Linked DNA regions of Homo sapiens. The protein of the gene in region 1 purifies or fractionates together with the protein of each later gene. This does not show direct contact. Each region holds a gene or a part of one and is shown on either strand. Other genes may lie near its edges. The genes, in order: CAMKV, ACIN1, AP3B1, CWC22, ZC3H18, TCOF1 and GPC1.

Region 1 (4,086 bases):
TGTCCGGCTGGGCCATAGCCGGCTCAGGGGTGGCAGCTGCCTTGGTGGCCAGCATGGCACTGCTTTGGGTGGTGGGCACAGTGCTCTCTTCTGTGGCTGGTGTGGCTCTCCCATCAGTGGCTGGAGTAGCGCTCCTGTCAGTGGCTGGGGTGACACTCCCATCAGTGGCTGGAGTGATGCTTCCATCGGTGGCTGGGGTGACACTGCCATCAGTGGCTGGGGTGGCACTTCCATCTGTGGCTGGGGTGGCACTACGGTCTGCGGGGGCCACATTATCACTCTTTGCAGCACGAGCAGCATCACCCTCAGGGGCTGAGGTAGCTCCACTCGCAGCTGCAGCTGTGGCCCCACCTGCAGCCCCGGGGGTGGCAGTGTCTGTGGCTGAGGCCGACTGGGCTGCAGCCGTGCTGGACTGCTCTGGTGCCCGGAGCCGTTTCATGAGGGTGGTCACTCGGACAGCCTTCTGAAAGGAGCACAGTGGAGAAAGGCTAAGGGTGAGGCTTGCTGGATCCATTGCTTGGCAGTGACCAAACCAAACTCCTTCCATAGTACCCCCGGCCACCTCCATCCACCCCAGGGCCAAGTACTCAGCTGCTCAGCACTCCTACTTAAGGTAATCACAGTGGCTACACCCACACCTGATGGCCTGAGAAAAGCTTGTGTGTGGCTGCAGGGGTGTGATGCAGGCAAGAAACTGAGTGCCAGAAGCAATACTTGGGATAGAGCCAAGAAGGGAGTTATCCAAGCCTTACCTTCCACTTGGCCCTGGCAAAGTTCTTTTCAATCTGGGCACAGACACCATCCTTGATGTTCTTATCAGAAGCAGCATTGCCAGAAATCCTGGAAAGGGTGCAAGTGTGTCTGGATCTGAGAGAATGAGCCTTTGTGGAGACTCTGCTCAGCCCTTCTATGTGGCATCCAGGGACTACCAGGCAGAGCCTCTGGGCTGCCCTGAGCTCTAGGTACCTGCACCCCTTCCAGGCCTCAAAGATGGGGCTGCTGGGTGTGAGGGGGACCCTGGCCTCTCCCACCCTCCCCTGGACCCTGCTCACCACTCATGGGAGATGGCCTCTTCTGCAGTGATCCGCTGGTCTTGCTCCACCTCCATCAGCCTTGTGACCAGGTCTTTGGCTGTGGACAAAACCAAGAAGGGGATAGTCATGGGCACCCCATCTCAATGTCTAGAGGTGATAAATGGGCTGGGGGACAGAAGCAGAATACCACAGAGGAAGATGAGAGCAGGACACCCTCCCCACTCCCTTGCGTTCTACCAAGTGCTGGGCAGGCACCTCCTCACCTGCCTGCGAAATATCATCCCAATATGGAGAGTCAAACTCATAGTCACCAGCCAGGATCTTGCGGAAGAGATTCTTATCATGGTTCTCATAATCATCTTCTTCCACCTCCTCATAGAAAGGTGGATTGCCTGAAAGCCTGCATGGGGGAAGGGTCACACAGAAAGGCCACAGACACATGCCCCCACCCCATCTGACTGCAAGCCTGCTTGTCCATCTGTCCACTCACAGGATGTACATGATGACTCCAATGGCCCAGCAGTCCACAGGGCGTCCATACCGCTGCCGGCCTACCACCTCTGGGGCTACAAACACAGCGCCCATCTGCTGGTCAGTATCAGGCCTAGCCAGGTCCAGTACCATCCACACCAGCTTCCTGAGATGAGCACATTTTCCCCCTGCCCAGAGCAGCTCCCTGAAGGCTGCCCCCCATTATCCCCCTGCCCCTGCCCCACCCCCTGCTTGCCCAGATACTCGGGGGTCCCACAGGGCTCCTTGATGAGGCCATTTTCTAGCTTAGCCAGATGGAAGTCACTGATGACAATCTTCGAGTTCTTCAGCCGGTTGTAGTAAACCAGGTTCTCCAGCTGTGGTGTGAGAATAGCATGTGGGTGAGCAGAAGACACCATGAGGACCTTGGAGGCTAGACCAAGGCCCTGAGGTGCTGCCCACCCCAGCACCAGCCCAGCTGCCAACTGGCCCTTTGACTCTGGCTCTGCCCTCACCTTGAGATTCCTGTGCACGATCTTGAGTGAGTGCAAATAGGCCACGGCCTCCAGGACTTGCCGTACCACGTTGCTTGTGTCTCGCTCCGAGTAGTAGCCCTGGTCCAGGATCCAGTCAAACACCTCCCTCCCCGTGGCCCTGAGGGACACCAGCCCCTGAGCCTGGCGTGGGCAGAATCAGGGGTAGGGCAGGAGCACTTGGGTGAGCTGCCTACGCCAGGCAGCTGGCTGAGCAAGGCACAGGGACCTGGGACGCCAAGGGTCCAGAAAGGGGGTTTCCTTAGCTGCAGAGGGTGGGACAGGTGAAAGCCCTGGGCGCTGGGGAATCTTGGGTCCCCAGACCCACACTCACAGCTCCAGGAAGATAAAGTACTCCTTGCGGGTCACAAACACATCCACCAGCTGTAGGATGTTGGGATGCTTCACCCTGGCGACAGGGAGGGGAGCCAGTAGTTAGGGCTGGATGAACCCCTGGGAGAGGCTGTGGTCACCACAGTGGCCACAGCAGACTAATTGGCCAGAGGCTGGGACTGCCTGAGGCCACTTGCCCTCTAAGCCCTTCCCTGCTGCCTCCCACCCCGCCCCAATCCCAGGCCTCAAACTCACATCTTGAGGATGCCTATCTCGTTCTTGGCAGCTTTCCGCACCTTGCGGCCGTCCCGCTTCTGGAACTTCTTGCAGGTGTGCAGCTTGCCTGTCGTCTTGTCCTTGGCCCGGAAGATTTCACAAAACTCCTCACTGCAGCCGACAGGCACCCACTCAGGCCTGGCCTTAGCATCAGCTGCACTCCACTGCCACTTCCCTAGCCCCTGCTCACCAGCCCACCCAGCCTTGCCTGACAGGCCCGGCACTCACGTCTTGATGACCTGTCCCAAATCATATCTGTCAGTCACCTCCGATGGCTGGTTATAGTTCTTCTTGTCGCCCAGAGTCACACACCCAAACGGCATTGCCAGGCTCTAACCTGCGGGCACAATGGGGTCTGGCTTAGCTGTACTACTCTCCACTTCCCCACAACATAGGGGCTGCTTTTGGGAGACCCCAACCTGGCTCAGGCCAAGCTAGGGGCAGAGACCATACCAGGAGGGGCTAGAGGATAGGCAGGCTTAGATCCTACCCCTGCTTTTCTGGCTAGACATCCAGCTACTCAGCTTGGCTGCCTGAAGTGCAACAGCCTACATATGAAAAAATGTATTAAGCTGATATATAAGGGAATAGTTTTGTATTCTATACATTCAAAAAAAAGGCTTATCAAACAGTTTATTTAAATTTCAGCTATTTTACAGATGAAGGGGGCTATAACCACCCACCCACCTGCTAGTCATCTCTGAAGGTCTAGAGCTAACAAGTGTTAGTGGATATATGAAGAACGTGAGCACTGCTAGGAGAGGGCAAACTCCCCTTTGTAAAGCAGTTTGGTAAAACCACTAAAGTCAAACAAACATACCCTATGAACCAGCAATTGCACTCCTAAATACGTGCCTACAGAAGTGCACATATTCGTGCATCAGGACAGTCATACAATGCTCATAGTAGCCATATACATAATCGCCAAAAATTGAAAACAGACCAAATACCACCACCAACAGGATGTATTGTGGTAGAGTCACACAATGGAATATTATATAGCAATGGAAACAAAGGAGCTACAGCTATACCCAACCACCTGGTGACTCTTACACAGTGTTAAGTGCAAAAAGACACAAAAGAATACATATAGTATGAGTCTATTGATAGAGTTCAAACAGGCAGAACAAACCCGTAAGGGGGATACAAACACAGCAGTAGAGCTATAAAGAAAAGCTAGGAAATAAGCAGAGTCAGATAATGGTCCCTTCTAAGAGAAAAGGAGGGGTTATGATTGATTCAGGACACATGGGGGGATTCTGGAAGACCTATTTCTTTTCTTTTCTTTTCTTTCTTTCTTTCTTTTTTTAGAGACAAGTCTCACTATGTTGCCCAGGCTGGAGTGCAGTGGCTATTCATGGGCACAAGCCCACTACTGATCAGCACAGGAGTTTTGACCTGCTTCGTCTCTGACCTTGGTTGCTTCACCCCTCCTTTAG
Region 2 (3,622 bases), on another chromosome or scaffold:
GGAGCCAATAGATGCAGGGAGCTGCCTTGGTCTTTCGGAAAAGGTCATCCAGCAGCTTGGCAGGTGGTTCCTCCTGGGCTTTCTCTGAGGTGGAAAAAAGTGAACCAGATATGATGCATCTGACCCTCTGTCCCATCCCATCTGGGTCCCTTTCCCACCTACTAGTGGGTATGCGTACCCCATAGCTAAGTACCTACCTTTCTTCTCACTCTTCTTTTCTTTAGACTTCGCACGTTCCTTGCGGCGGCGGTCACGGGACCTTGATCGGGAACGGGGCCCTTCTCGAACTTTGTCCCGATCCCATTCACGCTCTGATCGAGTCCGCTCCCGCCGCTCCATTTCCCGTTCCCGTTCTGCCCACTGTTCCCGCACTGCCCGTTCCTGCTCCCGCTGCTCTGCCCGGGGGTGCTGTGGTGGCTGGACCGGGGGTGGGGGTGGGGGGTGCAGGGGCCGTGGTATTCCCTGCTCCTCTGTCTTAGTTTCAGAGGGACGGTCCACCAAGAGGCCTCGGTGATAATCCAGCTGTGGGGAGAGGAGGGACAAGGACAGTTAGGATAGAGGTGATATCACTCCCACTCAAGGAGCCAGGATGGCCGGGCGCGGTGGCTCACGCCTGTAATCCCAGCACTTTGGGAGGCCAAGGCGGTCAGATCACGAGGTCAGGAGACCGAGACCATCCTGGCTGACACGGTGAAACCCCGTCTCTACTGAAAATACAAAAAAATTAGCCGGGCGTGGTGGCGGGCGCCTGTAGTCCCAGCTATTCGGGAGGCTGAGGCAGGAGAATGGCGTGAACCCGGAAGGCGGAGCTTGCAGTGAGCTGAGATCGCGCCACTGCACTCCAGCCTGGGAGACAGCGAGACTCTGTCTCAAAAAAAAAAAAAAAAAAAAAAGGAGCCCAGGTACCACTTTGAAGCCCCATGGTACAATTAAAGGAACCAAAGCCAGGGAAGAAGAGAAAAGAACAGAAGCTCAGAGACTGCAGGTCTGGCAAGGATCTCAGCTGAAATCTAGCAGATAATGGCTTCCCCTGCCCCTCCTCTCTTTCCTCTCCCTAGGTTTCTTACCTCATCTTGCTCGGCATAGTCAGCACAAAGGAATTTGGGATTGGACTGGGGCCATTTGACCCCGTGCAGAGCTGTGCGGGTGGCAACAGCTTCCTCTACTGTTGAGTACTGGTGGAGGAAGGGAGAAGATGGAGGGTCACAGTGTGTCTGCAACCCTTCCCACGTGCTGCAACACCCTTAAACCTGCCCACACTGGTCACAAAAGGAAATATATGCCATGACCTATAGAATCAGCTTCTTCCCCTCACCGTTACAAAGCAATGAGATTTGATCTTGTCAATCCAGAAGGCCTCTTCCACCAAGGTTCCTGTGCGCCCCAACAACTCCTTTAGCTGGCCTAAAGTGAAAGGACGGACCTGCCAATGAAAATAGACTTTCAGGGTCTAGCAGAAGGCAAGACCACCACCCAATCTTTAGATTTCCCGAGCTGCTGTCACAGGAGTATAGTTTCAAGGTTTGGGGGAGGGCAGAGAGTTTAGGAACCTTGCAGTAAGAATGTGAGAAGAGTGGTGGTGCTTCCCAGCACTAATTGAGACGTTGTATGTGAGGCCTTCTGCAAGTCCTCAAAACAACCCTGCAGGGCAACAGCTTTTCCCCCTCATTTTTAGATGGGTAAATATGTTAAGTAACTCACTCAAGATCAGTGAGTAACTTAATCTATTGGTAGACCAGTTCAACTATGAGTGGAACCTAGGAGGCATAAGCCTAAAGCTCAAACTTAACCACTAAGCAAGCTGGGATGGTGAGAAACAATGACTTACCAAATTGGAGATATGGACAATGTTGCTAATCTTGCCCCGGGGTGGGGAGGGCACCTGGGCAGTTCGGACTGGGTCATCAATGGTAATGGAAACTCCGGACTTCTGCTGGCTAATGGAACGTCGAGTTAAGGTATCTCCTAAAGTCACTATCAAGAAGACCACAAGAACAGCTTTTGGTAGGAAGCAATACTGGCTCTTTTCACCCTCAATGTAACTCTCACGGTTCCCTTTCTTTTATACCAAGCAGCCACTCCTTAATCTAAACGTGCAGAGCACCTATAATCTGCAAAGTACTGTGCTAGGCTAACCTCCTCATCATGGAGATTCAAAGATTAAACAGAGTCAAATCTGGCCCTCAAGTAGCTTACTTAATATGTAGGAGAAAGATATGATATACGAAAAAATATAATGAAAGGCAGGAAACATTCAAAGCTTTCAGCGATCCAAATGAGGTGCTCTGAGAATTCAGGGAGCCGCATTACATTTCTCTCACAATATGTCACTCACCTTTCTTTACTTCATGCTCTGCAGGTGGGGGCAAGGCCACCTCTACTGACACCTGGGGAGGTACAGGAGGTTCTGCTTCAGGTTCCTTCTCTTCTTCCTCTTCTTCCCTCTGCCCATTCTCCTGGCCCTCTGCAGGTACTACCTATCAAGGTGTCAGAGAACACAGCAGGTCTGTTAAACACCAAACTGGCATATTCTTTTCAGCCTCTGGTTCCCCGGTAAGAGTAGCAGTCAATCTAGCATGTTCCTTCCGCTAGGGGTATTTCGTTATCGGCTCACTTCTACCAGATCCTGGGATTGTTAGTGCCTCAACTTTGCCTTGAGGAAAACTAAGACAGGAGTTAGTAAATTTTTTCTGTAGAGCAAAGCAGTACTTCAGGTTTTGCAGGCCACATAGTTTGTTGCAACTACTCAACTCTGGTGATGTTGTAGTGAACAAACAGCCACAGACAAAAGTGAATGAACTCGTGTGGTTGTGTTCCAATCAAACTTTATTTGTAACAGGTAGCCAGCTGGATTTGGTAGTCTGACCCCTGAAAGTGTCAGTCAACCCAACCCTCTGCACAGACAGGGAAGTTCCCTCCAAAGACTTTATCTCAGCTCCTCAGCTAGCTGCTCTGCATCTACTGCTCCCACCTTTCCCCTGACACTGGGGTGCAGAAGCCTTACCTGAGTGACTGTCCGGCATATTTTCAGCCCCTTGTCATGGGTCCCATCATCGCCATTACGCTCTGTCTCATCCTCAGAGATGCGAGAGTCATCAGCATGAAGATCCACAACAGCCTCCTGCCCCGCCAGGGGTTTGATGTCGGGGATGAGGCTCTGGGACACAGATACCCCCCACCCCGTTACACTGGGCCCATGTCTACTCCCACCTTAACAGGTCTCATCCTCCCTTCCCTGGCTCCTCCCACCTCACCTTTAGTGATTCAGTGGTGATACTGATGGAAGGTTTCTTCTGTGTGGTGGCTGTGCTGGCTCCCCAGCGTCGTTTCCGACCAGGCTGGCCCCCCTCTGTGTCACTGTTTCCAGCTGGCACCCCCTTGGTAGCTGCTGTCCCCAAGAAATAGACCCAACAGTTAGATGGTCTCAGGACCTCTGCTAGTTCAAACCGTAATACCTACAGGTTACCTCTGGCTGGAGTTTTGGTAAAAGGTTAACTTAAAGAAATCATATTTGGAGGCTGAGTGTGGTGGCTCACACCTGTAATCCCAGCACTTTGGGAGGCCAAGGCGGGTGGATCACGAGGTCAGGAGTTTGAGACTAGCCTGACCAACATGGTGAAAC
Region 3 (4,086 bases), on another chromosome or scaffold:
AAAACAATATAAATCACTTTTAAAATCATTAAATCCTGACTTAAATTAATAAAGTCATAATTAGGGCATTATGCTGTGTTTGTTATGGAAGTGGCAGGGAGAGCTGCTTTAATTACTGTCTGTAATAAAAGGAGCAGAGAGCGTACTGCGCCCCAATCAGTGCTGTCAGCCACGACTGAGCCGGGCTGCAAGCTCATCAAGTGAGCGGGCAGCAGGCTCCCGGGGAAAGGACCATCATGTCGGCAGAGGCCACTCGCTGACAGCAGCGGGGAAAACAGAGTTGCACAATCCAAGATATTAGACCCAATTACTCAAAATTTTAATGACACTTTAATACATGATAATGTTATTGATAATGGGAGATCTTAAAAAGTGCTAACACTTAAAGATCTTATGACCGTCTTCCTTCACAGCCCTTGACTCTAATATTTGGATCATAATCTTTTTAATATAACATTATTTAGAAAAATCAATTGTCTTGGTTACATAATGGCAAAGTGTTGAAGGATTTAATTTTAGCCCTCAGCAAAATCGCTACAAAAGGTAATTAAGTGTTTCATACCTATTGCTTGATCACTTAACTCAGCCTTCCAAGGTTATACCAATTTTCAAAATGTAACCCCAAGATATGTTCAAGTTCAAAATGAAAGCTAAGCATTACAAGTAGGAAAATAATGTGAACAACTAGCACTTTAATTTTAAAAAGATTTAATATCTGGAAAAAAATACACACTTTTTTTCTCTCACCATTTTTTGATTAATAAGAAACATCTCTGCCTGGGGCAAACTTTCACAGAATATTTTTTGAAGGAAATTCTGACAAAATAAGTTACCTTTTTCCTTTGGCTTTTGAGTTCCTCTTGGCTGTTCTTTTGTTTTCTAGGCCTGACTCCCGTCCACTCTCACTGTCCTGCTCACTGGAGGAGTCCTCACTGCTGTCCTCATTGCTGTCTCCTTCCTCCCCACTTTCGCCTTGTTCTCCACTTTCACTTCCAGATTCACTCTCTGAAAAACAGAACCAGATGTTCTTAGATTTATAGTCATTTAATTAGACACACGGACACCTGTAACTGTCAATATTCATCACAAATGAAACCAGATGTTGAATTTTAGTTCAGTGGACACCACTTGTTTAACATTTTATTCCCACACCCCATTCTTTCAGCTCTATGGATTCCTTTAGCACTGTGAGCTTGGAGGGAGGCAGACAGAGGATGCTCTGACAACGAGGAGAGAAAAGCTAAGCAAAGGTGAACCAAGTAAACCAAATTTGAGGGAATCTCACTTCAAACCCCAAAGTATATAGCTATGTCAAAAACTTTCTTTTAAAGAATTACGTAAGGATTGATGTAAGGCTAAAGAAATAATTTTGAATTCTTCTGCTTGTAATGGGAAATTCTATTTAGAGTAAAAGAAGGCAACAGTTGAATCTTCTTAGGAACAAATTTTGAGAGGAAAATGAGCCATTCAAATCACTTGGAAAGACCTCCAAATTCAAAGACAATAGGCAAAATGACTAATTAAAGAGTTATTACTTATTCGAGCTAGTAAACGAGTTTTCCATAGGTCAAAGAGATGATCAAGTTACACTGAGGAATTATACTTTTAAATGTTTTATGTGTAAATTATGGTATGCTAGGACTGTTCGCAGAAGAGAATACATGAAGAATATATGTGTATTTTTTAAGTGAAGCATAATTTTTACTATTTAAAATGACTATAACTACAGAGTTGTGTCCCAGACAAAAGGACAAACTGTTGCCCTGCCTGTGATCTATGTAACGAAGCCCTCTTAGGCAGGAACATAACCTTTAATTAAACATTCTAATGGTTAAATAATACCAACATCAGGAAGGTCCATCACAGTGAAAACCTAGGACTGCCTGTATTGTTTTAAGACGGCTTACAAGGGGTACAAGCATGGGTTCTCAAGTTAGTGTTCGGATTCAGATCCTGGCTCTTCTACTTGCCAGTTGTAAAACTGAACAAGTTATTCAACTTCTCTGGGTTTTGGTTTCCTTTTCAGCAAATGGGGATAACACTAGTTACTTTTCAGAGCTGTTGTGAAGATTAAATGATTTGAAACATACAAAGGAGATTAGAACACAACAGGGTCTGCCACAGGGTAAGGCACTCATCATTATCATCATTTACAAACAGGAAAGTTTATTTTACTAAAATAAAGCTACTAAATAAGGACATTTTAGATTTGTGGTAATATCCAAGTTACACGCACATACATATTAAGTCAGATAACTGGCTTATGCTATAAACAATGAAAGAAATTACAGGTAATGTATCACAGATTAATTTATCAGATACTAAAAACAAAGATTTTTGATAAGGAAGACAGAGAAAAGAAGAGTGAATTACCTTACAGTAGGGTAGCAGATAACCATGTAAGAGTGACAGGCCCTGGTTCTCCAAGGAATAAAGATTTTAGAGAAAGTTGGGTGTCGTTTGGTCTTGGGTCAGATTTGCCTATTAGCTTAAGTGTTAATAAGAGCATCAGAAAGTGACTACAATCTATTTTTCATTATGCAAATCACTCACAGAATTTTAGCAATGAAGGGACTTTAAGAAATATTTAACTGTACCCCTTCATTTATCTGATATAGAGAAAAGTAGGTGCCTTATTCAATTTGCATAGGTAAAAGCCAGGGCCTCTAAATCCTTCCTATTAAGCATTCTTTTCACTGCATATAGTTACCCTCAACCTTTAGTTTGATTTTTTTATAGTATATAGAGACTTAATAATTTTAGCTTTATCTCTATAGAGGTTCACAGAAAGAGATAAGTATAAAATGAAAGAGAAAAAGACTCTTCAAGGTATAAAATAAACTTTACGTTTTTGTAAAAGAAAGTTACTTTTAAAGACCCCACTAAAAGTTCATCAAGTGTAAAATTATGTTTTTCAATAGATATATTAGGCATTGTGGTTTAGAATTCAGAAAAGTATGAGTTCCTGTTTCAGCTATACCAATGTATCAGCTACTATCCAAGAGATATTGTAAAGTAAAAAGAGAATTTAGTAATTAAAAATTACTTTGAAAACTAAAGAGTGATATATAAATGAAAGGGATTATTTTGATAATACAAACTTCACTTAAAACTACCTGCTGAATATTATGGATTAGGCCTTGTTTCTGAGATATAGAATGTAATCTACTATGTAAATAATATATGCCAATAAATTATAAAACCCACCACTGTCACTGCTACTATCAGAAGAGTCCTCCTCTTCCTCAGATTCAGAATAAAACTTCTTAGCAGAATTCTCTTGCTTTGCTTTTCCTGCTGGGGTCCATTCTTTTGCCTGTTTAAACAAATAAAGTAAATATAAATGAATTCTCATTCAGAGATTTAGAGTTCTGGCAAACTTAATCATTAACAACATAACTGAATTCAAAAGCAAGCTTAAGGCCTCCACAGGGAATGCAACTGTTAGAAGTCCTGGCATTAAGGCTGATTCACTTTACTCCTAAATACAACAACACAAACTCTCACTCAGAGGCCCTATGTTAAACCAACAATCTTATTTTAAATATACAATTTTTAAAACTTTTGTGTTTTTTGGCCCACAGAAGATTTAAACAAAAGTAATATATCCTAAAATAGGTGAGCGAAACTAGAAGCAGATACAATAACAGCAATAACAAACACAAGTTGATAGCTTGACACTGAGGGAAAAGAGAGAAAAAAAAAAAGAAAGAAAAGAAAATATTTAGTGTAGGCAATAAATTGCCCTAACCATCTCAACAGCCTAAATCCTGGAGTAATCCTTGACTTCTCTTTTTTTCTCATATCCTAAACATCTAAGCCATCAAGAAATCCTGTAGCTACCCTGGTCTGACCCACCCTTCTCTCCTGGACTACTCGTTACCTTGCTTCTACTGCCCCTCCACCCTGCCCCCAGCAAACAAACTTTGCAAAACACAGCATCTAGAATGATTATATTAAAACCTAAATGAGAGCAAGCTCCTTTTTGGCCTGAAACCCTGCAGTGGCTCCCCATTTTACTCAGAGAAAAAGCCGAAGTCCCTACAACAGTCTGCACAGCCCAATACAACCATCCTTTCATGACTG
Region 4 (4,086 bases), on another chromosome or scaffold:
GATTGGGTTATTTGTTTTCTTACTATTGAGTTGAATGCCTAATGTGTTTTGGATATTAACCCCTTATCAGGTGTATGTTTGCAAATGTTTTCTCCCATTCTGTAGGTCATCTCTTCACTCTGTTGATATTTTCCTGTGCTGTGCAGAAGCATTCTAGTTTTATGTAATCCCATTTGTCTCTTTTTGCTTTTGTTGCCTGTGCTTTAGGGGTCATATCCAAAAAATCATTAACCATACCAGTGTCTCAGAGCTTTTCCTTTGTATTTTTCTTTTAGAAACTTATAGTAGTTTCACAGTTTCAGGTCTAATGTTTAAGTCTTTAATCTGTTTTGCGTTGATGTTTGTATATGCTGTGGGACTAAGGTCTATTTTCATTCTTCTGCATCTGGGTATTCTGTTTTCTTGGCACCATTTATTGAAGACACTGTCTTTTCCCTATTGTGTCTTCTTAGCATCTTTGTCGAAAATCAGTTGACTGCCAATGTCTGGATTTATCTCTGGTTTCTTTGTTCTCTGTAGCTCTATGTGTCTGTTTTTATACTATTGTCATTCTGTTTTGATTACTATAACTTTGTAGCAGATTCCAGGTCAGGGAGTGTGATGCCTCCAGCTTTGTTCTTTTTGTTCAAGATTGCTGTGGCTATTTGGAGTTTTTTGTGGTTCCATGTGAGTTTTAGGATTGTTTTTTCTATTTCTGTGAAAAACGTAACTGGAATTTTGATAGGGATTGAGTCCAGTCTGTATGTTGCTTTGGGTACTGTGGACATTTTAACATATTATTTCAGTCCATGGACATGGGATGTCATGCATGTTCTTCCATTTTTTCATCAGCAATTTGTAGTTTTTAGTGTACAGCTCTTTCATCTCCATGGTTAGATTTATTCCTAACTTTTTTTTTCATAGCTATTGTAAATGGGATGTTTTCTTGATTTTTCAGAAAGATAGTTCATTGTAAGCATATGGAAGCACTACTGATTTTTGTATGTTGATTTTGTGTCTGCAGCTTTACTAAATTAGTTTATTAGTTCTAACAATTTTTTGGTTAAGTCTTTAGGGTTTTCTATATTAAGATCCTGTTTACAGCAAACAGGCTTCTCTATTTTTGATTTGGATACCTTTTATTTCTTTCTCTTGCCTAATGGCTCTGGCTAGGACTTCTAGTACTATGTTGAATAGAATTGGAAAGAGTAGGCACCCTTTTCTTATTCCTGATCCTAGAGGAAAAGCTTTCAGCTTGTCACCGTTGAGTATATTAGCTATGGGTTCGTCATATATGGCCTTTATTCCAATTTAATTTCTAGTGAGAGTGAAATGGGAATGTGAGAGAAATGGGAAAGATGAGCAATACATTTTAGAAAAGCAGAAGGGAATCACCGTATTCTATAAGAATATGTGGCTTTAAGCAATTGGTGATATTTAAAAGGGTCAGAAAATAGAATTACTCCATGTTGTATTTATTATTTTAAAATCTGAGGGCTGTTTTCTCATGTCATTTTACATGACTATGATTCATCTTTAAAAAAATATGGAATGTAGTGGCCAGGCACGGTCGCTGTAATCCTAGCCTGTAATCCTAGCACTTTGGGAGCCTGAGGCAAGAGGACCACTTGAGTCCAGGAGTTGCCTGGGCAACATTGTGAAAACCTGTCTCTATGAAAAATACAAAAATTAGCTGGGCGTGGTGGCACACAGTAGTCCCAGCTCCTCCGGAGGCTGAGGTGGGAGGATTGCTTGAGCCCAGGAGGCAGAGCTTCCAGTGAGCCAAGATCGCCCCACTGCACTCCTGCCTGGGTGACAGAGTGAGACCCTGTCTCTCCCCAACCTCTCCAAAAAAGGTGGGGGTATAAAGTAGGAGCAGCAAGTTTTAGAGGTAGAGAAAGTTGATCAAGAGACAGCCATTATCCTCAAAAGTGGGCAGAGATCTCTCCAATTTACTTAGAAAAAAAGTAGACTTAGAAGAGTTATGGATTGCTAAAGATACTATAATTTATAAGCTGCATCCTTTTTCTTATTTTCCACTCTAGTGATTCAGTTGTCATATCTAAAACTACCATTAAGACTTTTTTTCCTGACTTTTGGCAATCCAATAATTACTTGTCATTACATTGCTAAAAGTAACTTTAGTTTGCCCAATTTGCCTTTCCCCTTCCTCATCAAATGCATATAGAAACATGACCATTTTCAAAATGAGTTACAAGTAGGTACCTTTTAATTTCCTGTTACTGTTTTAGCATTAATCTGGCATTGCTTTTAATTCGTTTCTTTATTTCTCACAGGAGTATTCCACATCTTCATTTTATTCTACTAAAATTAGACTTAAAGATTTAAACCCAAATTTGTCTTTAATCACAAAATTAATTTTATAAAAATGACAGATCTGTAGTAGAAACTTTATGTTATCTACCTTTTATACTTTTGAAGCAGGTCTGCTTTTGTTTACTTTTTAAAAAATGTTAAAGAAATTATTTATATGAACCTTTTTAAGGTTCAAATTCATGATTAGATATAACAGACTGGGAAAAGAGGAATTATATGTAGAGAGAAAAATTTTGGTGATAAATTGCAGTAAAATCTTCATTCTATTTTACAAAATCACAAATTCACATTTCGTTTTCTGAAAAACAATTTTTATTTATTAGTAAGACAAACTCTTTCCAGTTAGTTCTGATTTAGATTTTATGATTACTTATAGAGAAATATTACTGAATTTTAATAGTTTTTGTTTCGTTTAATTAATTTGGTGATTATTGTTGACTCCTTTTTAAATTCTTTTTTAAACAGAGGACTGCTGTCCAGGTCTGTTTTGCAAGCACAGAGTGCTTCTCCAATCTTCACCCATGTTTATGCAGCATTAGTGGCAATTATCAACTCAAAATTTCCACAAATTGGAGAATTAATCCTCAAAAGGTTAATTCTTAATTTTCGAAAAGGCTATCGAAGAAATGACAAGGTATATATGAATGGCTTGTAAGTAGAATGATACATAGGAACAAACTAACAAACCAGTATCAACAAAAGTAAGCAAGGTTGATTTTGACACAGCTACATAACATAATGCTTTTTAAAAACTGTCTTTCATGAGAACTTCTTTGATCTGTTAAATATCCCTGGCCACTATTGATGAGCCACAAAAATGATGGCTATAACTGTAGAACTATAACTATTTAACCAGAAGGGATACTCTTTCATGTGTTTTATTTTGTAACTTTCTTATAATGTAAAAATTATACTTGTGTGGTACATGTTTTAAATAGATGATGTTAGTAGGCCATAGATTATGTAAATAAATGAAAATTGGGTTTAGTTTATAGGTTAACTTTCCACCTTTATTTTTCAGCAACTTTGCCTGACTGCTTCAAAATTTGTGGCGCATCTTATTAACCAAAATGTGGTAAGTAATTATCTTCAATACTTGGTCCCATTCAGTGGCATTAGACCAGAGGGTTGATGCCACTTCACTGATACCTCTCTATTTTTGCTTTGCTTTATAGTCCTTGGGATAAAAATGTTGGATGATATTTTCATTTTAAAACTATAATAAATATATTTAATGTTCTTTTTTTTTTTCTTTTTTTGAGATGGAGTCTCACTCTGTCGCCCAGGCTGGAGTGCAGTGGCACAATCTTGGCTCACTGCAAGCTCTGCCTCCTGGGTTCACACCATTCTCCTGCCTCAGCCTCCCGAGTAGCTGGGACTACGGGCACCTGCCACCACGCCCGGCTAGTTTTTTTTGTATTTTTAGTAGAGACGGGGTTTCACCATGTTAGCCAGGATGGTCTCGATCTCCTGAACTCGTGATCCACCAGCCTCGGCCTCCCAAAGTGTTGAGATTACAGGTGTGAGCCACCACGCCTGGCCATATTTAATATTCTTTAATATAACACTTTGATGCTGATCAAAACACTTTAGATATTTATCAAATTAATCTGACTTAATACTGTACATGGTTACTTGACTGCAAACCATTCCTTTGAAGAACCATTCCCTTCATTTTTATAAAACAATAAAGTTGGTATCTCCTCCACTTCATTCCCTGCTGTTCATGAGAATCTAATAAATATCTGATATTCTACAAAAACCTCTATT
Region 5 (4,086 bases), on another chromosome or scaffold:
AATCCCAGCACTTTGGGAAGCCGAGGCGGATGGATCACCTGAGGTCAGGAGTTCAAGATCAGAAACGTGGTAAAACCCAGTCTCTACTAAAAATACAAAATTAGGCTGCGTGCGGCGGCTCACGCATGTAATCCCAGCACTTTGGGAGGCCAAGGTGGGTGGAATGCCTGAGCTCAGGAGTTTGAGACCAACCTGGGCAACATGGTGAAACCCCATCTCTACTAAAATACAGAAAATTAGCTGGGCGTGGCAGTGTGCGCCTGTAGTCTCAGCTACTCAGGGGGCTGAGGTTGAATCCGGGAGGCGGAGGTAGCGAGATCGCGCCATTGCACTCCAGCCTGGGCAACAAGAATGAAACTGTCTCAAAAAAAAAAAAAAAAAAAAAAATCTTTTTCTGTGGAGATGGGGTCTATGTTGCTCAGGCTGGTCAAGTCCTGGGCTCAAGCAATCCTCCTGCCTTGGCCTCCCACGGTGCTGGGATCACAGGTGTGAGCCGCCGCACCTGGCCCACAAAGCTTTTCCATGTATTCTCTTCTCAGATGTTTTTATCGGCTTCCCCACCCCCTCAGGCCGGTTCCCTCGACAGGTGTGATAGGTCACGCAGGCCCAGCCTCTGCCCTGCTGGGCTGGAAGCTGCCGGCTCCTCCCCAGGTGCAGGTGCTCTCTCAGGGTGCTGGGCATCAAGTCAGCAGGGCAGAGGCACCTCCTCCTGACCTGAGTGCCCCCGAGTTTGTGAATCTTTTTTTGGTGGGGGGAGGGGGTCTTCCTATCACGAGTCCTGGCCCATTTTCTCCTGTGTCAAAGCTTCAACCGCAGCCTTCCACAGCCCCAGGGTGACTCAGATCCAGAAGGGCCCCAGCCCACCTGTGGGAGACAGCCCAACCCACACTGGCTGCTTCTGGGACTTCCTGGCCCCGACGGGGAGGGAGAAACAGAGGCACAGGGTGATGGGGATGACCTGGATCGGGAGCTGGAACCACTATAGCTGCTACCACTGCCACTGCCGCTGCCGCTTAGCGTCCGCCTGTAATACAAGCAACAGCGGGGCTCAGGGGGCGTGGCCTCCACAGCCCCTCGCGGCCTCCCCTCCCCACCAGCAGCCCTGTGAGGTGAGCCTCCAGACTGGCCTTGCTACCACCTTGGAACAGGGCCTGGGCCTGTCTTCCTTTAGGCTCAGTGTTTTGTCAAGATAAAAAGTACAGTCTCTCGGGGGCAGCACCTTCCAGTGCAGACGGGGCCATGGCGGGAAGGCCTGTGCTCCGTGCCACGCTGTCCCTTCCCCTTCACGCTCCAGAAACACAGGCTCAGGGAGGGGACAGGGCAGGTTCCCGGGTAAGGGCTCACTGGGTGCTGCTCGGCTAGGGGGCGCTTCCCACCACCTGGCTCTGGACCCTGGCACTCTGGATTTCCAGCAGTGCCAGCATCACAGTGGCACCAAGAACACGGAAAGCCTGAGGGCCCCGGACGCCGGAGTGCTCACCTCCTGGGGGGGGTCCTGGCTGGCCGCTCCTTCCTCCTGGCTTCCCGAGGGTCTCCTGGCTTGGTGGGCTCGGGGACAGGAGCAGTGGTTTTGGTGGCCTGTGGTGGGGCTGGAGGCGGGGCCGGCTTCTTCACTGACTTCTCTCTGTGAGACAGGGAGGCTCGAGCAGGGCAGGGCTGGTGGACGGGGCCCCGCTGGCCTACATCCCCTTTCAATGGACCCACAGCTCGGGGAACGACACTGCATGCCTGTGACGCTCGGTGAGCACGCTCGTGCCTGGACACGGCTCCCCACCCATCGGTGTCAGAGTGCTTGGGAACGGCTTCAAAGCCCCCAGCAGCCCTTCCAGGCTCCCCTCTAACAGGCAAGAGCTACAGGCACCGCCAGGCAGTGGGGAGAGCAGGCTAATAGGAAGACCCCTTAAGAACACCCGGCTGCTGCCGTGTCCCCAGGGCTGTGCTCTGTCCCCAGGGTTCCCGAGGGAGTGCTGCTGTGTAAGGGTGGCCCGTGAGAACAGGAGCTGTGCCCAGTGCCTCCCAGCCCAGTCACCCCCTGGGGCCAGCCCCCTGAGGCATCCTCACCTCTTTGGTCCCAAACACAAATGAGAGATAGAGACGGAGGGAGGAGGCTGCAGCCTGTGGAGGCCTGGCCGGCCAGGACTTGCCCACAGGCTGGGCACTCACCCTGCTTTCCCGGGCGGCGGGGCCGGCTCTCCCTTGGTTCTGATGGAAGGTCTATGTGGGGAAGGTGTTGGGGACGGGGACGGGGACGAAGAGAAGGACCGGGACCTAGGGGAGTGAACAAAGGTGTCGGAAGGGGCCTGGGGGTGTTTCTTCACCAGCCCAAGCCCACTGAGGACCCACCCAGACCCATGGAGAAGGCCACGAATTTCCATTTATGTGCCTCAGTTTTAACTTCAGTTCTGGACTGTTCTGTCATCTGCTAAAAACACAGGCCCAGAGTAGACCAGAGAGCGTGGAAGGTGTCAGCATCCACTGGCGGGTCCTCCGGGAGGCGAGTGTCACGTTCATGTGTGTGCAGGACAGGAGGAGACAGGCTCCTTGGCAGTGGGGCAGCAGCACAGCTCCCATAGAAACACCCACAGGACAGGGCTGGGTCTGGCCCCTTCCTCGGCCTGTCTGCGGAGGACTGGAGTGCCTCAACTCGAGGATCTCAGGCTGTGGCCCTCAGTGACAGCACGCATCTACACAAGGACGAGGGCCCGCAAGGCTGGTGTTTGGTGGGGGACACAGGACACGACCCCCTGGCCATCCTAGTTCAGCTGCCAGCAGGGACCTTCAATACCCCAAGGGGCTACTGGCGCCACAACTAAAGCCACATCCGCAGGTGCCCTTGCTCACTGCACCTGCTGAGGGCCCTTCATGGGCCCTGGGGACATACCTGGACCGGCTTCCTGAGAACGAGCTGTGTCTGGAAGAGCGGCTGGAGTAGGAGCTGTAGGATGAAGACCGGGATCGCGACCGGGAGGAGCCGGAGCCAGAGTAGGACGATGACCGCGAAGACGACCTGGGGCGGGCGGGACGGAGCGTGGCGAGAAGTGAGAAGGGCCCTCCCTGCCCCACACGCCCTGACGCACACATGCACAGCTACACACCCACAGACGCACAGCTACACACAAGCGCACAGCTGCGCACGCGCGCACAGCTGCAGACGCGCGCACAGACGCATACAGCCTCCCCCAGACACTCTTCAGTGCCATCCCTCCTTGGTGCAGAACGGCATTTAGAAATCAAGACCTGGGCGTGGGGTGTGCCTGCTGTTACCGGGTGGCGCTGCCTGAGTGGGCAGACCCAGCTCACGTGGGTCCGTGTGTGTGTCTATCTGTTCATCTGCATCCACTTTCAGTGAAGCCTGGCCTCCCACCCACACCTCCTGTTCCTGCCGAGCATGATGGGGTCTACCCCGGCCCCCTGCTTTCCATCATCCCTCACTCGGGAGCCGGGCTCCTGTGTGCTGAGACCAGGACCGTAGGTGGAGGGGCAACAGTTTCAGGTCCAGTCTGGAGGAACAGATGGACTCACTGGGCCCCAGGTCTGTGCGTCCTCCCGCATCCAGGTGCCCCTCCCTCCAGTGTGGCCTGTGACTCCCTGGGAGCAGTCAGGCTCAGTCGCCGGGGTCTGTGCCCCATTTGGGGTCACTGCGTCAGTCCTACTTGGCATTGATGCTCTTTGCTGAAGGTATAAACGCCGGGTTAGTCCCACTGACTGGTCTGCAGGTAACGACGCCACAGCAAACAGTGGGGCTGGGGTGTTCCCCACCTGACCCAGTGAGGTACATGGTGTCAGCTGACGGCTCCAAGGTGCTGACACCCCAGCCGTCCCACGAGCCCTCCTTACCTGGAGGAATTAGAGGCAGAGGCTGACGAGGCTGATGTTTTCCGACGCCTTCGAGCCCGGCTCGGGGAGACCGACACCCCGAGTTTCTTCTTGGGAGACTTGGATCGGCGCCAAGGGTCCTTCCACTCATCTGCTCTCTTCACCTGCGGCCCCGTGGTGGCAGCCTCCTTCTTTGGTGGCTCAGCTTGGCGGCTGAAATTACAGAGGCATTAGCAACTCTCAGGCCACCTTCCGCTTCACAGCAATGCC
Region 6 (4,086 bases), on another chromosome or scaffold:
AGGGCTTGCATCTCAATCAGGAGAGCGCATCCTGTCTGCCCCTTAAACTCAAGTATCTGATCACAGCAGCCCTCCTGAGGGCCAGGAGTTCAGGATGTGAACACCACCTCTGCCACTGGCTTGCCACACCTTGGGCAAATTCCTTCCCTCTGTGAGCTCTTTCCTACACTTCCACAATTCAGACATTTCCCAGGCAGTCAGTGCCCTACTTCTACCTCTGAGATCCATCAGACCCCTTGCGGCCCTGGGTTTCTGGGGCGTCTGCTACTGGAGCTCTGCACAGCCTCAGCCCATTGAGGTTGTGTGTTTATGGAGGGCTGGGAGTGGTCTTCTTCCCTTTGGCAAGGCCTGGGGTGACAGAAGCCAGGGATGTCCTTACAGCTGGTGGTATCTAGGGCGCAAGGGTGAGGACGGAAGGTGGAGGGCAGCCCTTGGTAAGGCCTGGGGTAGATGGGGGTGAGCTTTCAACCTTCACAGGGTTACTGGGCCAGGCAGCACAGTAAAGTGAGAAGTTCCCTGGGCACCAGATCAGTTCATCCCTGACTTGTGCTGGTTTTCCCTTGAAAACATCTTTCCAACTGTGGACACCTTGGTCTCCCAGCCCCCAGCCTCTTATGCCAGTATCAGTATTACTCCAATAGTCTCCTACATGGTCTTACTGCTTTTATTCTGCACTGCCCTCCAACCCAGGCTGCAGCCAGCAATCTTATTAAATGCAAATCAGGCCATCTCTCCTTGCTGGCATGGCTTCTCACAGCCCCTAGAATAAAACCCAAATTCCTTATGGTGGTCCTCAAGGTCAGACAGAAGATCTGGCCCCTGTCTACCTAGGACTTCATCTTGTGTCACTTTCCCCATAATTTATTTGTTTTTTTAAAAAATAACATCTTGTAGAGACAGGGTTTCACTATGTTGCTCAGGCTGGGTTCAAACTTCTGGCCTCAAATGATCCTCCTGCCTTGGCCTCCCAGAGTGCTGCACTTACAGGTGCGAGCCACCGTGCCTGGTTTCTCCCTCTCATTTAAAGATCAAGGTTTTGGCCAGGCGTGGCGGCTCATGCCTGTAATCCCAGCACTTTGGGAGGCCAAGGCACATGGACCACTTGAGGTCAGGAGTTCGAGACTAGCCTGGCCAACATGGTGAAACCCTGTCTCCACAAAAAATACAAAAATTAGCCAGGCGTGGTGGCGTGCACCTGTAATCCCAGCTACTTGGGAGGCTGAGGCACGACAATCGCTTGAACCCGGGAGGTGGAAGTTGCAGCTAGCCAAGATCGCGCTACTGCACTCCAGCTTGGGTGACACAGTGAGACTGTCTTAAAAAAAGATCAATGTTCTTTAAAAGCACCAAACTCTCTTTGCCGCCTTCTCTGCACATGCCATTCCTTCTGCTTACGCCTACTCATCAACGTCAGGTTCCTGCCCTGCGTGGCCCTCTACATTTCCACTTCATAGCAGCCATCACCAATTAAATATCTGAGGGACGCTCCCTTGCCCCATGGCAGCAGGAACTCTGCCTGTCCTGCTCATCACTATATTCCCCAGGTCTGCCACTTAGTAGGTACACAATAAAAAGTAACCTGTGGAGACCTTTTCCAGGTCAAAGTTCACAAACCCAAGAGTCCTGCCCAACTCTAGCCAAGTGTCTAGGCCTGGCATTCACCAGTTGGCCCAGAACCCTCTCAGCAGCCGCAGCCCTAGCCAGACCACGACAGCCACACTGTTGCCTCTGGGCCCTGTTCTTGCCCCATTTCCTGTCTGGAATGCCCTGCCTCCTCCACATCCCTTCCCAGTGAAGCCCACTGTGCTTTGAGGCCCTACTCCAGGGCACCTCTCCCAGGAAGGCTTGTCTAGTCTCACAGGCAGGAGGGTGTCCCTCTCCTGCCCCCAGGGCTGATCTCACACTCAGAGTGCAGCAAGCAGCACCAGACTCCTCTCCCTGCCCCTCTCCGGCTGCAGCCTTTCCAGCTCCTGGTCACCCTACCACAGTTGCTGAACTCATCTGGGCCCACTGGTGTCTGAAGCCCCAGACAGGTTCCTGGAAGGGTTAGAGGCTGGGAGAGGGCAACTCCTAGGGATGGGTGGCAATTACCTCCACGTCTGTCTCATCACTGGAGCTGGAGGTGTCCTCGCTGGAGCTGTCGGCCTGGCCCGCTGACACCATCCCTGAGGATCGGACACGGAGGGGACTGAGGGACTCCCTTTCCAGCCTCACCTGCCCCTCCCCAGCACCTCCCCACAAACCAGCTGCTCATCAAAGCCAGGTGCTGAGCGCTCACCCCTCGTGTGCCTCACATGCACTGAGCTGTGAAGCCCCCTTCTGAGGTGGGTACCATCACCATCCCTATGTTCCCACACATCTCTGAGGCCCTGGGAAGGGCTGTGAGGGGACCCAACAAATATGCACCAGCACCTGACAGTCTACAGAACCTCCATCCACCATCATATCCACTGATGCAGGCCAGACAGATGTCTACTCTACATAGGAAACAGAGGCAAATCAGGCCTTTCAGTTTAGTCTCTGAGCTGCCAGTTGTCCCTGTAACTCACCAGGGAGTCATAAAGCAGAAAATGCTCCAACCACCAGGTGGGCTGTTCAGCCTGAGGCCAGGTCCCTGTAAGCTGACCCTCCCTCGTCTAGGTGATGAGAAAAGTCCTAAGATGCAGGAACCTGGCTGTCCTGGAGACAAACTTTTGATTCCAGAAATGTCCCAGAACTTAAAGCAATGCCTAGGCCTGCCTCACCAGCCCAAGTTCTGGGGACTAGGTTCCTAGAGGTGGGGACTTCTTACCAGGCTTGGCAGCAGCTCCAAAGGCCGGGACGCTGCCCTCCTCCTCAGTTTCTGAGACCAACGTAGTATTTGCTGAGGGCTCTGCTGACTTCCTGGGAGACTTCCCAGAAAGAAGGTTGGCCACCGTCTTCCCAGTGGCAGGGTGTGGCATGGAATTCCCAGTCTTGCCAGCTTTCTCTGTCTCTGCCTACAGAGAACAAGAGTGACAGACACATCTGGTATGGCATGGTGAACTAAGAGCACAGGCCACTTGCATCTGAACCCAATCTTACCACTTCTTAGCTGTGTGAGTTTGGGTAAACTACCCCTTCAATCTGTTTCCCAATCTTTAAAGTGAGGTTAAAAACAGCACCTCCTCTCACCAGAGGTGTTGAGAAAACAGAATCCCAGTTCTTGGGACATGGTAGTTATTTACTAAGTGGTAAGTAGCAGTTTGTTGTTGATCTTATCATTACTTCATAATTACTTTGAGACATTGTTGCTAATGCTCCAGGCAATCGCAGAGGCACAATTCTTTATACATGTATGTATCTAACTCTGCTTTCTGGATTATTAGAAAATGACACCTTGTTTTTTGAGCAGTTTCCAGTTTGGAAAATGCTTTTAGAGTTTCAGAACCACAGATGTCTTGATCACTACGGTGCCTCCACACCTAGCACAGTGCCTGGAACATAACAGGTATTAGTCAAGATCTGTTGAGTGAACGGGTGAACGCAGGCATGAAAGAGGAAAGAAATCGCCTACCCCAGGTGTAGAATGTGCCCAGTGGCCCACTGCAGCAGGCATCATCCTTATCTTTATAGAAAAGTAAACTGAGGCCCAGAGAGGTGAAGGGACTAAGATCCCACAACTGGTGACACAGGTTGAGCTCTGAATCCAGGTGGGGCAATTACTCACAACCCTATCCTTCTCTGACATGTAAGACTGTCCCCTACCAGGCACCTTAAATCCCATAGGCAATAGCTTGGAAGGCAGTCCCACTCACCTTGGCTTTTTCTTTCATGCTTGATGGCAAGTCCGCCCCCAGGACTGAGGAGTTGGTAGATGCTAGTCTTGGGGCTGCAAGAAACAAACATCTGCTAAAGGAGCCAGATGAGCTTTTCTCATCTATGAATGGCAAACAGGTTTCATCTCACCTAACAATTCTATTGGTATTGGCTGCCTGGTGCTGGCATGAGGATCTGAGGCTGAGCCCAGACTTGCAGGAATGAGCTCTGTGATGCATCAGCCAGGTCCACCAGGAGCAAGAGAGAAGAGGATGGTAACATGAAGCTATGTGTCTGCATCCTTGATGG
Region 7 (4,086 bases), on another chromosome or scaffold:
CAGCAGTTACCAGAATGTGATACAACGAATTGTGAGGTGGCAACGCACGTGCTTCCCCGGGAAGCCGTTTCACAGGAGCCGCAACGGGCCTAATACTGACTACAATTCAAAGTCACAGTGAGAGGACGCCGTTTTCCAAGCTGTCTGCTACGAACGTGGAGGGGCATAAACAGCGGCGACGTCTACTGGTGACCAAGCCCCAGGTCCCGGAACACCATCGTTCCGAGTAAGAAAAAATGCTAAATTCTGGTTAGAGGTTAGCAACGATGGAGATGTAATCTCTTTCTCAGCCAAGTTCATGAAGCCCATGAATTACATCCAGAACCTCATCCGTGCACCCACAGAAGGATGGATGCATCTAGAACAACCCTCCTGCATGCTGGTGTTTGGCCACCACAGTCTGCCCTTCCTCCCATCCCAGCACCTGGCGCTGAGTGGTGCCCCCTCCCCTGAGCTCCCTCTTCCCCTGGCGTGGTTCTGCCTATAGCTTCAGTTCAAGTATTTCTCTTGGGGGTGCTACTGGCGTTTGTGGAAGGGCACCTCCATCTTGCAGGATTACTGGGCTCCCTGGCCCCACCCACTAAACACCAGAGCACCCCCACTCCTCAATCACTGGGATGTCACAAGTGCCCAGGGCAACTGCTCCCGCTTGGGAGCCACCCTATCCCAGGGGACCTTCCCAGGTATCTGTCTGACCTGCAGCCACCCCTCACCCCAAATTGCCCACAGGATGAGGCCACGCACATAGAACAGGGAGGCACCTGTTCTAACACCTACCATCCTGGGTGTGAGGCCACAGGAGGGAGACTGAAGATGCTGAGCAGTGTTCTGTGTACAGCCCCCCGCCAGGCTCGGGGAGGGGGCATCGCGTTCAGGAACAGTGGGGCTGGATTACGTGAGAGACTTGTCCTTTTAAAATACCTCCTTGGGTCCAGTGTGTCCCAAGCTCCATGACAACTGGAGATGCATGTAAACGCCTGAGCCAACCCTGGTGGCAGGTGGCATCAGCTTTGTCCCCAGGGCCTGGTAGATGGTCACAGGTGGGTGGGATGCTCTCCCTGCAGTCTCCAGAGCCAAGGATGGGCCTCCTGGCCCCGGTTCTTGAGGAGACACTTGGACGTCACACATGGGTTACCACAGGGATGGGATCAGACAGCCACAGGGAGCCCCAGTCACCAAGGATGCGCCAGACACGGGTGGGCTGCGGGGTCCACAGTGGGCACTGAGGCTGCACCAGATGCAGGGACAGGCTGAGACGATCACCCATAGGCCACAGCTCTGTGACGCACTGGACAGCTGTCGTCGGTGTTTGGGGAAATCGTCTGAAGGTGCGCACAGGCCACAGACTTCCCTACAGGTCCCACTGCTGATGGCGCACCCAGGAAGCACCCCTGCCGGGGAGGCTAGGGATCCGGTCGCTGCTGCATGGGCCTAAGGCTTGGCTGTTCCCAGGAGGGAGACGTGCTGTTCTGGGCCTCAGAGCATCGGGGTCACTGCAGCCAGATCCATCACCCCAGGATGGACCAGCGGGTGAGGACGGGGCTCAGGATGGACAGTGCCGCAGGGTCCTGGGCGGCTGGATTTGGGAGTCCCCGGAAGCCCCAGCCAAGTTTCTCAGTAGAACCTGAACTTCTGTGGGGCGAGAGCAGAAGCCTAGCAGCGTTGTACTTCCTGGCCCGCCCAGCTCACCCTTGTCCCTCAGGAGGAGCCAGGACAGCAGGCGGGCATGTGGTGCCCACTGTGGGGCTGGCTCTGACCTCAGGAGACCCACCGGGCGTGGCGGCTGGGCTGGGCTGAGGCTGGCCGGGCCCTCCTGCGGTGTGTGTCCTCACATGGCCCCGACACGGAGCTGCAAAGAAGCCGGGCCGTGTTCACAGCCTCCCCTCCTGTGCGCTCCCGGTGCCCCTCAGGCCTCTGGGTGCCTGCACCTGCGGGGTAGTCTGTGGCCTTGGCCCAGCTCCCCATCCTCTGACCCAGCCTCACCCCTGCTAGCCAGGCCCAGAGCAGGAGTGAGTCACTCGGCAAGCAAGTGTGGGGCTTGGCCCCAGGCGGCGAGGCCTCTCAGCTCTGAGCCCTGGGAACCCCTCTCTGGGACTCAGCTTTCCCATCTGCAAACTAAGTGGTATTCAGCCCACCCGGTAGACAGCCCCTGGTGCTGCCGACTCTGGGAACTCCTGGGGCACCTCAAAGGTGGGAGAGGACCAGGGGAGGGAGGGCCTGGGGAAAGAGGGACCCTTCTCTCCCTGTCCACCGGCTGCGCCCCATCAAAGACCTTGAGAGCCCACCAGGAGGCCTAGTTCACAGATGCCGCTGGGCCTCACCTCCCACTGCCCCGTGCTGGGCTCAGGGTTTCTGCTTCCGAGTCGCCTGGCCTCAGGGATGATTTGCAGTGGCTCTGTGGCTGGCCCTCCTCCCCACCACAGCCCTGGGAGGTCTCCTCCTCCTGAAGGAGCAGGACAGGTGGAGCCCCTGGGTGGCTGCCCTGTCACCCTGCCAAGCCTGCAGGACCCAAGGGGCACTCAGCACAAGAGAGCAGCGGGCCTCCTCGGCCAGCCACCGCCTCAGGAGACAGCAGTGGTGCAGCCTCCTGGCCCCCAGGCCTCCCTCATCTCTACATCTCCAAACCCTCGCCCTGCAGTCCCACTGCCTCCCCGCCCAAAGTCCACCTGAAGGGCTCTGCCCCCTGACAAGTGGGAGACTGGGGCCTGTCCAAGGCACACTCACACCACTGAACCACGACTCTCCCAGCCTGGGCTCCCGCAACGCAACCTGGAGAAGGTTTTCAGGCCAGCCTGGCCACTGCCCCCCACCCCAGTTCTGTGACGGCACAGGCGGCGGCATCCTCAGCCACTGCTGTACCACTAGACCTGGAACATCACCTGAGTGGCCCGGCCCTGCCACCCGGACCTGAGGGAAAAGCGGAGGCCCACGGCAGGAGGGGCTGGCCAAGGACCCAGTAGCTGTGCAGGGCCTGACGCTGAGGCCTCCCAGGCTTGTGGGGACCAGGCTGTGCCCAGAGAGCGCCTCAGGTGGACGGGGGTGAGTGGCAGGCTGGGGCGTGGTCACTCCCTCACACTGTCACCAGGGTCTCGGGCACATCTGTGCTGAGCTCTAAGCCCATTACAGAAACACGGCCCAGTGCTCAGGAGGCCACAATCACAAAACACCCAGAGCCTCGGGGTCTTTGCCACCTGATGGGAAGATGTAGGTGTGCCGGGCTGGGCTAGCTCCCCACTACAGGCTAAACTGTACCCCCAAAACCCACATGGCTGAGGCCTAACCCCGATTCCTCAGGATGTGACTTTGGGTGTGGAGTCTGTGTGACACCTCTCGTTAAGAAGAGATGGTACCGGTGGGCCCTGACCCAATTAGAGTTGTGTCCTTGTGAAGAGGGGGAATTCGGAGACAGAAGCGCACACGGGGAGAGCGGCCTGTGGAGGCCAAGGTGGGATTTACCAGCCAAGGAACACCTGGAAGCTGGCAGTGTGGAGCAGACTTCCTCACGCCTCAGAAGGGGCCAGCCTGGTGGACGCACACTTGATCTCAGGCTTCCAGGCTCTAGAACCACGGACGACCCATGTCTGCAGCTGCAGCTGCTCAGCCTGTGGCACTGTTCCGACAGCCCTGGAAACACTTGTGCTCCCAACCCCGGCACCCAGCCCCACCCGGTACCGGGAGGGACTCGGGGCCTTCCCCACCCTGTGTGGAGCTCAGGCCTGCCCAGGCGGGGGCCCCGGCAACAGGGAGGGTACGTGTTGGCCGATGCCCGGGAAGTCAAGCTGTGGGGAAAGGCCGGAGGAGGCGGGTGCTGTGGGTGGGCACAGGGAGGACACCGTGGAGGGAGGGGACAGGTGTGCCAGAAAGGTGGGTCAGCAGGAGCTGGCGGGAGATGGAGCTGAGGCCACAGGCAGGAGAGGGGATGGTGTGAGGCTGGCCTGGCCCTCTCAGGGGCTCCTAAACCCACCCGGATTCCAGACTGCTACCGAGCCTGGGGCAGTGGGGTATGCCCCTCACACCTGTACTTCCCCGCCACCCACGGCGGGCCAAGGGCAGCCAAGGAGGCTGCAGCTCTGGGCCCTGCTCCTC

The links.
Region 2: the proteins of CAMKV (region 1) and ACIN1 purify together in Homo sapiens (affinity purification with mass spectrometry; 4 studies listed by BioGRID and IntAct, with this or other methods). This does not show direct contact.
Region 3: the proteins of CAMKV (region 1) and AP3B1 purify together in Homo sapiens (affinity purification with mass spectrometry; 4 studies listed by BioGRID and IntAct, with this or other methods). This does not show direct contact.
Region 4: the proteins of CAMKV (region 1) and CWC22 purify together in Homo sapiens (affinity purification with mass spectrometry; 4 studies listed by BioGRID and IntAct, with this or other methods). This does not show direct contact.
Region 5: the proteins of CAMKV (region 1) and ZC3H18 purify together in Homo sapiens (affinity purification with mass spectrometry; 4 studies listed by BioGRID and IntAct, with this or other methods). This does not show direct contact.
Region 6: the proteins of CAMKV (region 1) and TCOF1 purify together in Homo sapiens (affinity purification with mass spectrometry; 4 studies listed by BioGRID and IntAct, with this or other methods). This does not show direct contact.
Region 7: the proteins of CAMKV (region 1) and GPC1 purify together in Homo sapiens (affinity purification with mass spectrometry; 4 studies listed by BioGRID and IntAct, with this or other methods). This does not show direct contact.

The regions. Positions count from the first base shown.
Region 1 is NC_000003.12:49,859,419-49,863,504, forward strand, and holds part of CAMKV (caM kinase-like vesicle-associated protein), read right to left. Parts: exon of another isoform or gene 3,957-4,086; intron 2,985-3,956; 5' UTR 2,971-2,984; coding exon 2,876-2,970; intron 2,759-2,875; coding exon 2,627-2,758; intron 2,448-2,626; coding exon 2,373-2,447; intron 2,160-2,372; coding exon 2,021-2,159; intron 1,883-2,020; coding exon 1,762-1,882; intron 1,601-1,761; coding exon 1,525-1,600; intron 1,435-1,524; coding exon 1,298-1,434; intron 1,132-1,297; coding exon 1,053-1,131; intron 841-1,052; coding exon 753-840; intron 464-752; coding exon 1-463. UniProt on the Homo sapiens protein: Does not appear to have detectable kinase activity.
Region 2 is NC_000014.9:23,061,101-23,064,722, forward strand, and holds part of ACIN1 (apoptotic chromatin condensation inducer in the nucleus), read right to left. Parts: intron 3,389-3,622; coding exon 3,255-3,388; intron 3,158-3,254; coding exon 3,005-3,157; intron 2,478-3,004; coding exon 2,336-2,477; intron 1,975-2,335; coding exon 1,829-1,974; intron 1,424-1,828; coding exon 1,316-1,423; intron 1,176-1,315; coding exon 1,068-1,175; intron 523-1,067; coding exon 198-522; intron 85-197; coding exon 1-84.
Region 3 is NC_000005.10:78,112,919-78,117,004, forward strand, and holds part of AP3B1 (AP-3 complex subunit beta-1), read right to left. Parts: intron 3,317-4,086; coding exon 3,208-3,316; intron 1,006-3,207; coding exon 834-1,005; intron 1-833. UniProt on the Homo sapiens protein: Subunit of non-clathrin- and clathrin-associated adaptor protein complex 3 (AP-3) that plays a role in protein sorting in the late-Golgi/trans-Golgi network (TGN) and/or endosomes.
Region 4 is NC_000002.12:179,972,498-179,976,583, reverse strand, and holds part of CWC22 (pre-mRNA-splicing factor CWC22 homolog), read left to right. Parts: intron 1-2,781; coding exon 2,782-2,950; intron 2,951-3,337; coding exon 3,338-3,391; intron 3,392-4,086. UniProt on the Homo sapiens protein: Required for pre-mRNA splicing as component of the spliceosome. As a component of the minor spliceosome, involved in the splicing of U12-type introns in pre-mRNAs. Promotes exon-junction complex (EJC) assembly.
Region 5 is NC_000016.10:88,622,140-88,626,225, reverse strand, and holds part of ZC3H18 (zinc finger CCCH domain-containing protein 18), read right to left. Parts: intron 4,030-4,086; coding exon 3,838-4,029; intron 3,008-3,837; coding exon 2,882-3,007; intron 2,269-2,881; coding exon 2,164-2,268; intron 1,625-2,163; coding exon 1,481-1,624; intron 1,025-1,480; coding exon 959-1,024; intron 1-958.
Region 6 is NC_000005.10:150,367,608-150,371,693, reverse strand, and holds part of TCOF1 (treacle protein), read right to left. Parts: intron 3,851-4,086; coding exon 3,777-3,850; intron 2,979-3,776; coding exon 2,792-2,978; intron 2,166-2,791; coding exon 2,092-2,165; intron 1-2,091.
Region 7 is NC_000002.12:240,441,877-240,445,962, reverse strand, and holds part of GPC1 (glypican-1 precursor), read right to left. Parts: intron 1-4,086. UniProt on the Homo sapiens protein: Cell surface proteoglycan that bears heparan sulfate. Binds, via the heparan sulfate side chains, alpha-4 (V) collagen and participates in Schwann cell myelination.